Homo sapiens: one gene and its partners. The protein of the gene in region 3 purifies or fractionates together with the protein of the main gene of each other region. This does not show direct contact. Each region holds a gene or a part of one and is shown on either strand. Other genes may lie near its edges. The genes, in order: UFD1, ELMO1 and PTGS2.

Region 1 (3,049 bases), on a different chromosome or scaffold from region 3:
ATGGCAGGGGCAGGGCTGAGGTGTGTCAGTTGTCTGTTGTGTGTGTGAAATCAGAATACTGGAGTGAGAGTCTAGCCACCTCAGGGGGTTCTGTGAAGCTCAGGACAGTGACAGTGAGGGCTTCCCAATCCTTCAGATGACCCCTCTCCATAGACAGGTACAGAGCCTAAAGCCCCTGGCCCTATACCCAATATTGATACCAAACCAAGAAGTCAGTTACTTTCTGCTTCCCTCCTGGGAGGATGCCAGGAAGCACCAAAGGGCCCAGGTGGGGTGCAGCAGCATCTTTTCTGCGTTCCTCTTGACTGTCAAAAATGAATTTTAGTCCTTTTTTCCTGGAAATAACATTTCTCTGTCTCTGTCTCTTCTTACAGAGGAATTCCCAATTATGAATTTAAACTTGGTAAGATAACTTTCATCAGAAATTCACGTCCCCTTGTCAAAAAGGTTGAAGAGGTGAGTGTATTTCCTTGTATTTCCTTGGTTGGTAATGAGGAGATTTATTTGCTAGTGATGACTGAAGTTCTTGGCATTCTGAGTAGGGGTGTGCATTAGTCTGTTTCCAAGCTGCTGGTAAAGATGTACCCGAGACTGGGCAATTTACAAAAGAAAGAGGTTTAATGGACTTACAGTTCACATGGCTGGGGAGGCCTCACAATCATGGCAGGGGGCAAGTCACATCTTACATGGATGGTAGCAGGCAGAGAAAAAGCTGGTGCAGGGAAACACCTACTTATAAAACCATCAGATCTCATGAGACTTATTCACTATCATGATAACAGCACGGAAAAGACCCGCCCTCATGACTCAGTTACCTCCCACCGACTCAGTTACCTCCCACCTGGTCCCTCCCACAACACGTGGTAATTCAAGATGAGATTTGGGTGGGGACGCAGCCAAACCACATGAGGGTGTCTGTCATGTTTTCCCTTTCCTAGGGTCCCTCTGCTCCCTGGTGTCCTGTTTTTTTCTGTAGAGCTGGTGTAGGGTGTATGAAACAGAAGACTTGCAGCATGGGGGTCAGGAGCTCTGTCTTGCTCTAGAGCCGACTCCAGGCTCTGTTATCACAGAACTGTGTGCCCTGGGTGGGCTTCGTCTTCCAACAGAGACCTTGAACTTCAAATATAGGCAGCACCTTCTAGCTGAGCAGGGTGGTGGCGGGACAGAGGAAGGCAAGGGCTGAGCATCCTGTAGACATGGGCACTTTGTGGGAATATGGCCAGGCCTGGCAGCAACTGGAACGCAGTCACCTCTTTGTGATGAGGATTTCTACAACACCAGCGCTTCAGACCCATCGCTCTCCTGGTTCCTTTTCTCAAAGGATTGGACCCTTGAGGATCCAGGATCAGGGCAGAGGGCAGATGTACTGAGCCACCCATTCAGGACCAGCTGCTACATGGGAGCCATCCCAATTACTGAACTCTTTTCTCTAGCACTTGGGGTGGTTGGGGACAGAGACCACTGTGAAGTTTGCACACCTGGTCCTACTCACAACCACTTCTGGGCTCAATGTTCAAGTTGAAACAGCATTGGGCATTGGGACCTTTCAGGCTCAGAGGAGCAAACATAGTGGCCAGTCAGACCTCACCCTCCAGCTCCTCCTTCAGGCACCATCCAGGCTTCACCAGCTACAGGCTGCCTTTCTCACTAAAAGCCAGTGCCTGACTCCGACCTAAGACCTTAGCATGGGACGTCCCCCAGGCTGACTGTGACCTGACTGTTGCAAATTTACAGAAGGCAGGGGAGGCCAGTGGGCACAGCAGGCCTGTTTGACCATAAATATGTATTTAAGAAGTATATGTTTAAAGATGGGATTGAAGACATATTTAGCTCTATTCCATCCTGCAGCCCCACTAAGGCTGTGGCTAAAGGTCATGAGGTAAGAAAGACAGTGGAAGAGGAGGCAACTACAAGGCTTTGGAAGCCCCAGGTACCTTAGTAGACCATAGAAAGCCTAGAAGCAGTTCTGTGTAGATTGTGGAATTCTCAAAAGGCACCTCTAGAAATGAGGGACTAAAGACAGAATTCTGTTACTAAGCAGTTAGAGCTGCATTACCCTCCCTCCCCCATCCCAGAAGGCTGGAGGCTCGACTCCAGTAGGTCTCTAGACTACTATCTCTGAAGTGAAGGCCACAGTCAGAAAGCTTTCCATTCCAGCATCTAAATAATAGAGGATTTGTGGGAAGAACAGCCACAGAAACCAAAGGAGCAGAAATCATCAGGGAAATAGTTTCCCCAAAGATGGGCACAATTTTGCAGATTTGAAGGGCTCACTGAGTTCCAGCAAAATGAATGAAAATAGCCCCACTTTGAGGCAAAGAAAGATCCTAAAGCTTCTAGAGAGAGAACAGAGGTATCACCATGCATTAAGGACATCATCAGCCAAGCGCCATGGCTCACACCTGTAATCCCAACACTTTGGGAGGCTGATGCGGGAAGATCATCTGAGCCCAGGAGTTTGAGACCAGCCTGGGCAATATAGGGAGACCCTGTCTCTACAGAAAATTTTAAAAATTAGCCAAGCATGGTGGCACGCACCTATAGTCCCAGCTACTTTAATGCTGAGTTGGGAGCATCACTTGAGCCTGGGAGGTGGAGGCTGCTGTGAGCTGAGATCACACCACTGCACTCCAGCCTGGGTAACAGTAAGTCCCTGTCTCCCAAAAAAAGGGACATCATCTTAGCAGGACACAGAGGAAACTAGAAGATAGTGGAGCAATATACTCAAAATTCTGAGGGGAAATTTTTTCCAACCTAAAATTCTGTACCAACTCTTATGAGCTGGATTGTGTCCCTCCAGTGTTTCTGTGTTGAAGCCCTAACCCCCAGTAACTCAGATAGGGCCATTTAAAGAAGCAATTAAGTTAAAATAAGACCATTAGAGTTGGCCATAATTCAATCTGGTGTCCTTTTAAGAAGAGGAAATTTGGACATAGGAAGGGCCATGTGAGGACACAGCAAGAAGGCAGCCATCTGCAAGCCAAGGAAAAGGGTGTCAGAGGAAACCAAACCTGCTGACACCTTGATCCTGCACTTCTAGCCTCCAAAA
Region 2 (3,658 bases), on a different chromosome or scaffold from region 3:
AGGAAGGGCATGATTGTAAGGGGATTGAAGTCAGAGGCATCTACTGTGTCCCATTCTGCTCTCCTACAATATGGAAGTGAAGACAGGAGGCTGTAAGGGAGGCTGTGTGGCAGATGCAGGGGAGATGAGAAATGCCTAGGAGAAGAAAAATAAAAGTGAGAAAACATTAAGGTGTTCTGCAGGTGCAGCTAAGTCTTGAACATTTACTAAATTACTATATTGAAAAGAAGCTAACTCTTGAGTGTTTCAAAGTAATTTAACCCCTTTGGGTGTTTGGTGTGAGTGGGTGGGGCGGGTGGGGAAAGGGCTTTGAAGCCTTTGCTGAAGGATGTGGCTGGGGGTGAGGCAAGGAGCTCACCTGATCACACACTGTGCTTACTTCATCAGGTTGCCTAATGCTCAAGGGTTAAAGGTGATCATTCCTATGGAGGTAACATTTCCCTTCCAGATCTAAGACAGTGGATACAATTAAGGTTTGTAACTCAAGCTTGTAACCACTTTTTGGTGCCTGAAACCATCCAAGTAGATAGTTTGGTTTATAAGACATTCTGTTGAATCTGGAAAACGTGGTGGATTAAGAAACCCTCTCTGCATCACAAAGCCTGGAGTGTTTGCTACTAATTGTGCAACTTTAGTTCTGGTTCCTTCTAGTCAACCAGAGAAGTGCTTTTTAAGCTTACGGCTGTAACCCATGAGCGGATCATGATATCACTTTAGTAGGCCAAGACCAGCAGTTTAAAATGTGAAAGAGAAGAGTGGTGTGGAAAACAGCATTTCATAAAACAGACACCCAGTCTTAATGTCAAAGTATTGCTCAGTGTAGGTAACGATTTTAAAAAGCCTGTTTCAATAATTCTGGGGAAAACTACATTTTTAACCAACTTGCCAGGGATTCTGATGACGACGTTCTAGAGGGCTACAAGAAATACTTAGCTATCTCCTTTTAACAAAATACTGTTGGTTTAACCCCCTGCAGGAGATGCTATTTCCAAATGTTGAACCAGATGCAGTTCTGTCGGCTATTGACTTAACTTTTCAAAATGCTACTATTGGCCGGGCGCGGTGGCTCACGCCTCTAATCCCAGCACTTTGGGAGTCCGAGGCGGGTGGATTGCGAGGTCAGGAGATCCAGACCATCCTGGCTAAGGCGGTGAAACCCCGTCTCTATTGAAAATACAAAAAAAATTAGCCGGGCGTGGTAGTGGGTGCCTGTAGTCCCAGCTGCTCTGGAGGCTGAGGTAGGAGAATTGAGTGAACCCGGGAGGCAGAGCTTACAGTGAGCTGAGATTGCGCCACTGCACTCCAGCCTGGGCGACAGAGCAAGACTCCATCTCAAAAAAAAAAATGCCACTATTTGTAGAACTTGCCAGTGCGCTAGGCCCTCATGCTGCCATCTTGGAGGAACTAGAAACTCAAGTGACATGCTTTTCACTTTAGTGATGCAGAAAGGCAGTAGCTCCCTTTGCAATAACTCTTTAACCTTACTTAGAATAAAATCGACAGACTATCCCCTTTTCTCACCAAGTTTTAGTTTAGAACTTTTGAGGTCTTTGGAAATTTACTCTGCTCAACTTCTCCTTTCATATTTTACATCTAGTGTTCCCCACATGAATGATTCTAATTACAAAGACAGTTGTAATCTCTTCTGGAGGCAGCCACACTGCTGGGATGCATGATTAGGTGAAGCATTTTAGCTGACCTGGGCTTGGATTGGCTATCCAAAGAAGAAAGTCAAAGGCTGACAACTCAGCCTGGGCAACATAGCGAGACCACATCTCTCAAAAGTTAAAAAATTAGCTGGGTATGATGGCATGCACCTGTAGTCCCAGCTACTTGGTAGGCTGAGGCAAGAGAATGGCTTGAGTCCAGGAGTCTGAGGCTGCAGTGAGCTGTGATCTCACCACGGTGCTCCAGGTTGGGGGACAGAAAAAGACCCCATCTCTTTAAAAAAAGAGTCTGAGAACTTCTGCACTGTCCATAATAAAAGGATCATGAAGGCCAGTCATTCCACAGGGTGTGGCTCCCAGGACCATGTGTGTGGCCATGAAAGCCTTCCAGTATGCCAGCACAGCATTTTTAGGTTCAGCAAAGCCAGCCTGCATGTACAATGCACACACTGGTTGCAATGCTTATTTCCCTGGATAATTTGGGTTGTTTGAGTGTTAACAATTGGAACTTATCTATATTAGCCAGAACTAAAGCCTGCAAAGCCATATCATGATTCCTGATTACATTAACTACTTGTGTCTTAGTGCTGTATTTTCTAACCTGTTACAATATAAGTGCAGGTACGGTACGAGCAGAATTTGGTCATTGGCCTAAGGTGGGGTGAACAGTTAAGTATCAGATAGGAATACGTGTGGGAGAAGGAATGCTAGCTCATCAAACAGAATTAACTACAGTAACAAACTGGCATAGTGCTGAGTCGAGAAATTAGTCACATGTATAAATAGAAGGAGACGATTCTCAGTGTTCCGGGCCCCCACAAACACTGATTTCCAGAATCTGAACAGAATTATTATTGGAACTTCAATTTTAGGAATTGAGGCTACAGTTTTGACTGTTTTAGTTCTAACAGTTAAGGTAGAAAACAAAACTTTCCTCAGTAGAAAACACTGGAGAGGCACAACTTGCTGGACTAAGGACTGAGATGTGTTCAGTGGGTTGTACTCTGGATAGGGAATGGTGGTTTGAGGGAATGAAAATCAGGTAAGCCCTATAAAGCATTCTCTCAGTGGAGGTGGAGTCATAGGATCAATGCGACATTTTTCTCTGTGGCCTGACACACCCTTCCTCTGGGGATGCTGTTTTGGAAATGATGGAGAACAGTCAGAATAGTATTGTTATCCCATTTTACAGATGTGGCTTGGAGGAATGAAATGTCACAAGCATACTTAGAGAGTGCATCTGAGCCTTAAACCCAACTTTTCTGACTCGTTTTACTGCGTTGTTTCTTTCTCCTGCACCATGATGTCTGCACTGGTTAGTTCCTTCTTTTGTTGGTTCACTGGACTTGCCAGCCTCTGAGGCCAGGATGCCATGTGGAGCTATGCTGCAGTGGTGTCCAGAGAGGCTCTTCACTCCTGTATGTCCTGCAGATGGATGTGCCCTGGGTTGCCATGGTATCCAGGGATGTCAATGCTGCCACTGAGTCCTAGTTCTTCAGAGTCAATCCCTCTCTTTGGGTATCTCATTCTAAAGTTGACCTTAGTTTTGAGAGTCAATGGATTCTTCTCTCAGGGACAGTATGTCCATCAGCCAACCTCATGATATTGAAGCATATGAGCTAGAATGCAATTTATTAATAAAAAATGAGAACAGTATTTGCCAAGAAGAATGGGCGTTTATTCTTTAGCCAACATTTTTCCTCTGTGGATGAGTCATGGTGAAGGCAAAAGCATGGAACCACCTGGGAAGGAACCAGTTGGAAGGGGAATATACTTGACAGTGTTTTCCAGCTCCTCATAACTTTTGCTAATTCTCTTGTTGATAGATTCATACCAACTAAGAAAACCAGAGACTGGAGTCCTTTGACCGTGATGGTTTCTCCTTTGGGCGATGCTGAGGCTACTTGTACGGTTCTTTTTCTACTTGTAGGCTGTTGGCCATTTTACTGACCCATTATTTCAGGCAGTGTCAGCCTCAGTGCTATTGACAT
Region 3 (3,225 bases):
AGAACGTTCGACTGAACTGTAGAAGTCTAATGATCATATTTATTTATTTATATGAACCATGTCTATTAATTTAATTATTTAATAATATTTATATTAAACTCCTTATGTTACTTAACATCTTCTGTAACAGAAGTCAGTACTCCTGTTGCGGAGAAAGGAGTCATACTTGTGAAGACTTTTATGTCACTACTCTAAAGATTTTGCTGTTGCTGTTAAGTTTGGAAAACAGTTTTTATTCTGTTTTATAAACCAGAGAGAAATGAGTTTTGACGTCTTTTTACTTGAATTTCAACTTATATTATAAGAACGAAAGTAAAGATGTTTGAATACTTAAACACTGTCACAAGATGGCAAAATGCTGAAAGTTTTTACACTGTCGATGTTTCCAATGCATCTTCCATGATGCATTAGAAGTAACTAATGTTTGAAATTTTAAAGTACTTTTGGTTATTTTTCTGTCATCAAACAAAAACAGGTATCAGTGCATTATTAAATGAATATTTAAATTAGACATTACCAGTAATTTCATGTCTACTTTTTAAAATCAGCAATGAAACAATAATTTGAAATTTCTAAATTCATAGGGTAGAATCACCTGTAAAAGCTTGTTTGATTTCTTAAAGTTATTAAACTTGTACATATACCAAAAAGAAGCTGTCTTGGATTTAAATCTGTAAAATCAGTAGAAATTTTACTACAATTGCTTGTTAAAATATTTTATAAGTGATGTTCCTTTTTCACCAAGAGTATAAACCTTTTTAGTGTGACTGTTAAAACTTCCTTTTAAATCAAAATGCCAAATTTATTAAGGTGGTGGAGCCACTGCAGTGTTATCTTAAAATAAGAATATTTTGTTGAGATATTCCAGAATTTGTTTATATGGCTGGTAACATGTAAAATCTATATCAGCAAAAGGGTCTACCTTTAAAATAAGCAATAACAAAGAAGAAAACCAAATTATTGTTCAAATTTAGGTTTAAACTTTTGAAGCAAACTTTTTTTTATCCTTGTGCACTGCAGGCCTGGTACTCAGATTTTGCTATGAGGTTAATGAAGTACCAAGCTGTGCTTGAATAATGATATGTTTTCTCAGATTTTCTGTTGTACAGTTTAATTTAGCAGTCCATATCACATTGCAAAAGTAGCAATGACCTCATAAAATACCTCTTCAAAATGCTTAAATTCATTTCACACATTAATTTTATCTCAGTCTTGAAGCCAATTCAGTAGGTGCATTGGAATCAAGCCTGGCTACCTGCATGCTGTTCCTTTTCTTTTCTTCTTTTAGCCATTTTGCTAAGAGACACAGTCTTCTCATCACTTCGTTTCTCCTATTTTGTTTTACTAGTTTTAAGATCAGAGTTCACTTTCTTTGGACTCTGCCTATATTTTCTTACCTGAACTTTTGCAAGTTTTCAGGTAAACCTCAGCTCAGGACTGCTATTTAGCTCCTCTTAAGAAGATTAAAAGAGAAAAAAAAAGGCCCTTTTAAAAATAGTATACACTTATTTTAAGTGAAAAGCAGAGAATTTTATTTATAGCTAATTTTAGCTATCTGTAACCAAGATGGATGCAAAGAGGCTAGTGCCTCAGAGAGAACTGTACGGGGTTTGTGACTGGAAAAAGTTACGTTCCCATTCTAATTAATGCCCTTTCTTATTTAAAAACAAAACCAAATGATATCTAAGTAGTTCTCAGCAATAATAATAATGACGATAATACTTCTTTTCCACATCTCATTGTCACTGACATTTAATGGTACTGTATATTACTTAATTTATTGAAGATTATTATTTATGTCTTATTAGGACACTATGGTTATAAACTGTGTTTAAGCCTACAATCATTGATTTTTTTTTGTTATGTCACAATCAGTATATTTTCTTTGGGGTTACCTCTCTGAATATTATGTAAACAATCCAAAGAAATGATTGTATTAAGATTTGTGAATAAATTTTTAGAAATCTGATTGGCATATTGAGATATTTAAGGTTGAATGTTTGTCCTTAGGATAGGCCTATGTGCTAGCCCACAAAGAATATTGTCTCATTAGCCTGAATGTGCCATAAGACTGACCTTTTAAAATGTTTTGAGGGATCTGTGGATGCTTCGTTAATTTGTTCAGCCACAATTTATTGAGAAAATATTCTGTGTCAAGCACTGTGGGTTTTAATATTTTTAAATCAAACGCTGATTACAGATAATAGTATTTATATAAATAATTGAAAAAAATTTTCTTTTGGGAAGAGGGAGAAAATGAAATAAATATCATTAAAGATAACTCAGGAGAATCTTCTTTACAATTTTACGTTTAGAATGTTTAAGGTTAAGAAAGAAATAGTCAATATGCTTGTATAAAACACTGTTCACTGTTTTTTTTAAAAAAAAAACTTGATTTGTTATTAACATTGATCTGCTGACAAAACCTGGGAATTTGGGTTGTGTATGCGAATGTTTCAGTGCCTCAGACAAATGTGTATTTAACTTATGTAAAAGATAAGTCTGGAAATAAATGTCTGTTTATTTTTGTACTATTTAAAAATTGACAGATCTTTTCTGAAGATAAACTTTGATTGTTTCTATACATCTTTGTCATATGACATAAGATTTCTCTGAAGCATTACTCTTAAACCATTATCTTGCATTCTCCTACCTATTCAAAACTAGGACTGGCCCTTCATGAAATGGTTTTGCCCTCAATTATATAGAGGCTTCCTAGAGTCACTATTTAAATCTCATAATCCTTATTCACTGCGACACTGTGTTGGAAAATGTCTAGTTTGTGTATCTTTACAGAAGATGGCAAACAAGCTTATTTTCATTGCCTAGTCTAGAAGAAGAAGAAAAAAATACACAATAAGGCAAAGAATAAGACATATATTATGAAGGGGGCACAAAGTTAAGAAGTTCAAAGAGGAGGAAATTATACAAAGTTGGGCAAATCATTGATGCAAAAGCTCATAGGCTTTTGTTGTACCTCTATCCTTGACATCTTGGTAATTTCAATATCTACATGGACCACATATTTAGCATCTTCCCTGGCCTCTCCTCTTTGGCCTTCTCCATTCCAGGGATGGCCTCTTCCACCATATTTCCTGAAATCATACATATCTTGATATCATTATGATTAATTACAGCACCACTTTCAAAATCTTGATTCCAAGCATCTTCCAGCTCACCTATTTTATTGCTTACACTCTAACATCTAACTCTCAGTCTCACTGA

The links.
Region 1: the proteins of PTGS2 (region 3) and UFD1 purify together in Homo sapiens (affinity purification with western blotting; one study listed by BioGRID). This does not show direct contact.
Region 2: the proteins of PTGS2 (region 3) and ELMO1 purify together in Homo sapiens (affinity purification with western blotting; one study listed by BioGRID). This does not show direct contact.

The regions. Positions count from the first base shown.
Region 1 is NC_000022.11:19,452,156-19,455,204, reverse strand, and holds part of UFD1 (ubiquitin recognition factor in ER-associated degradation protein 1), read left to right. Parts: intron 1-374; coding exon 375-456; intron 457-3,049. UniProt on the Homo sapiens protein: Essential component of the ubiquitin-dependent proteolytic pathway which degrades ubiquitin fusion proteins.
Region 2 is NC_000007.14:37,442,207-37,445,864, reverse strand, and holds part of ELMO1 (engulfment and cell motility protein 1), read left to right. Parts: intron 1-3,658. UniProt on the Homo sapiens protein: Involved in cytoskeletal rearrangements required for phagocytosis of apoptotic cells and cell motility. Acts in association with DOCK1 and CRK. Was initially proposed to be required in complex with DOCK1 to activate Rac Rho small GTPases.
Region 3 is NC_000001.11:186,671,150-186,674,374, reverse strand, and holds the end of PTGS2 (prostaglandin G/H synthase 2 precursor), read left to right. Parts: coding exon 1-22; 3' UTR 23-2,584; downstream 2,585-3,225. UniProt on the Homo sapiens protein: Dual cyclooxygenase and peroxidase in the biosynthesis pathway of prostanoids, a class of C20 oxylipins mainly derived from arachidonate ((5Z,8Z,11Z,14Z)-eicosatetraenoate, AA, C20:4(n-6)), with a particular role in the inflammatory response.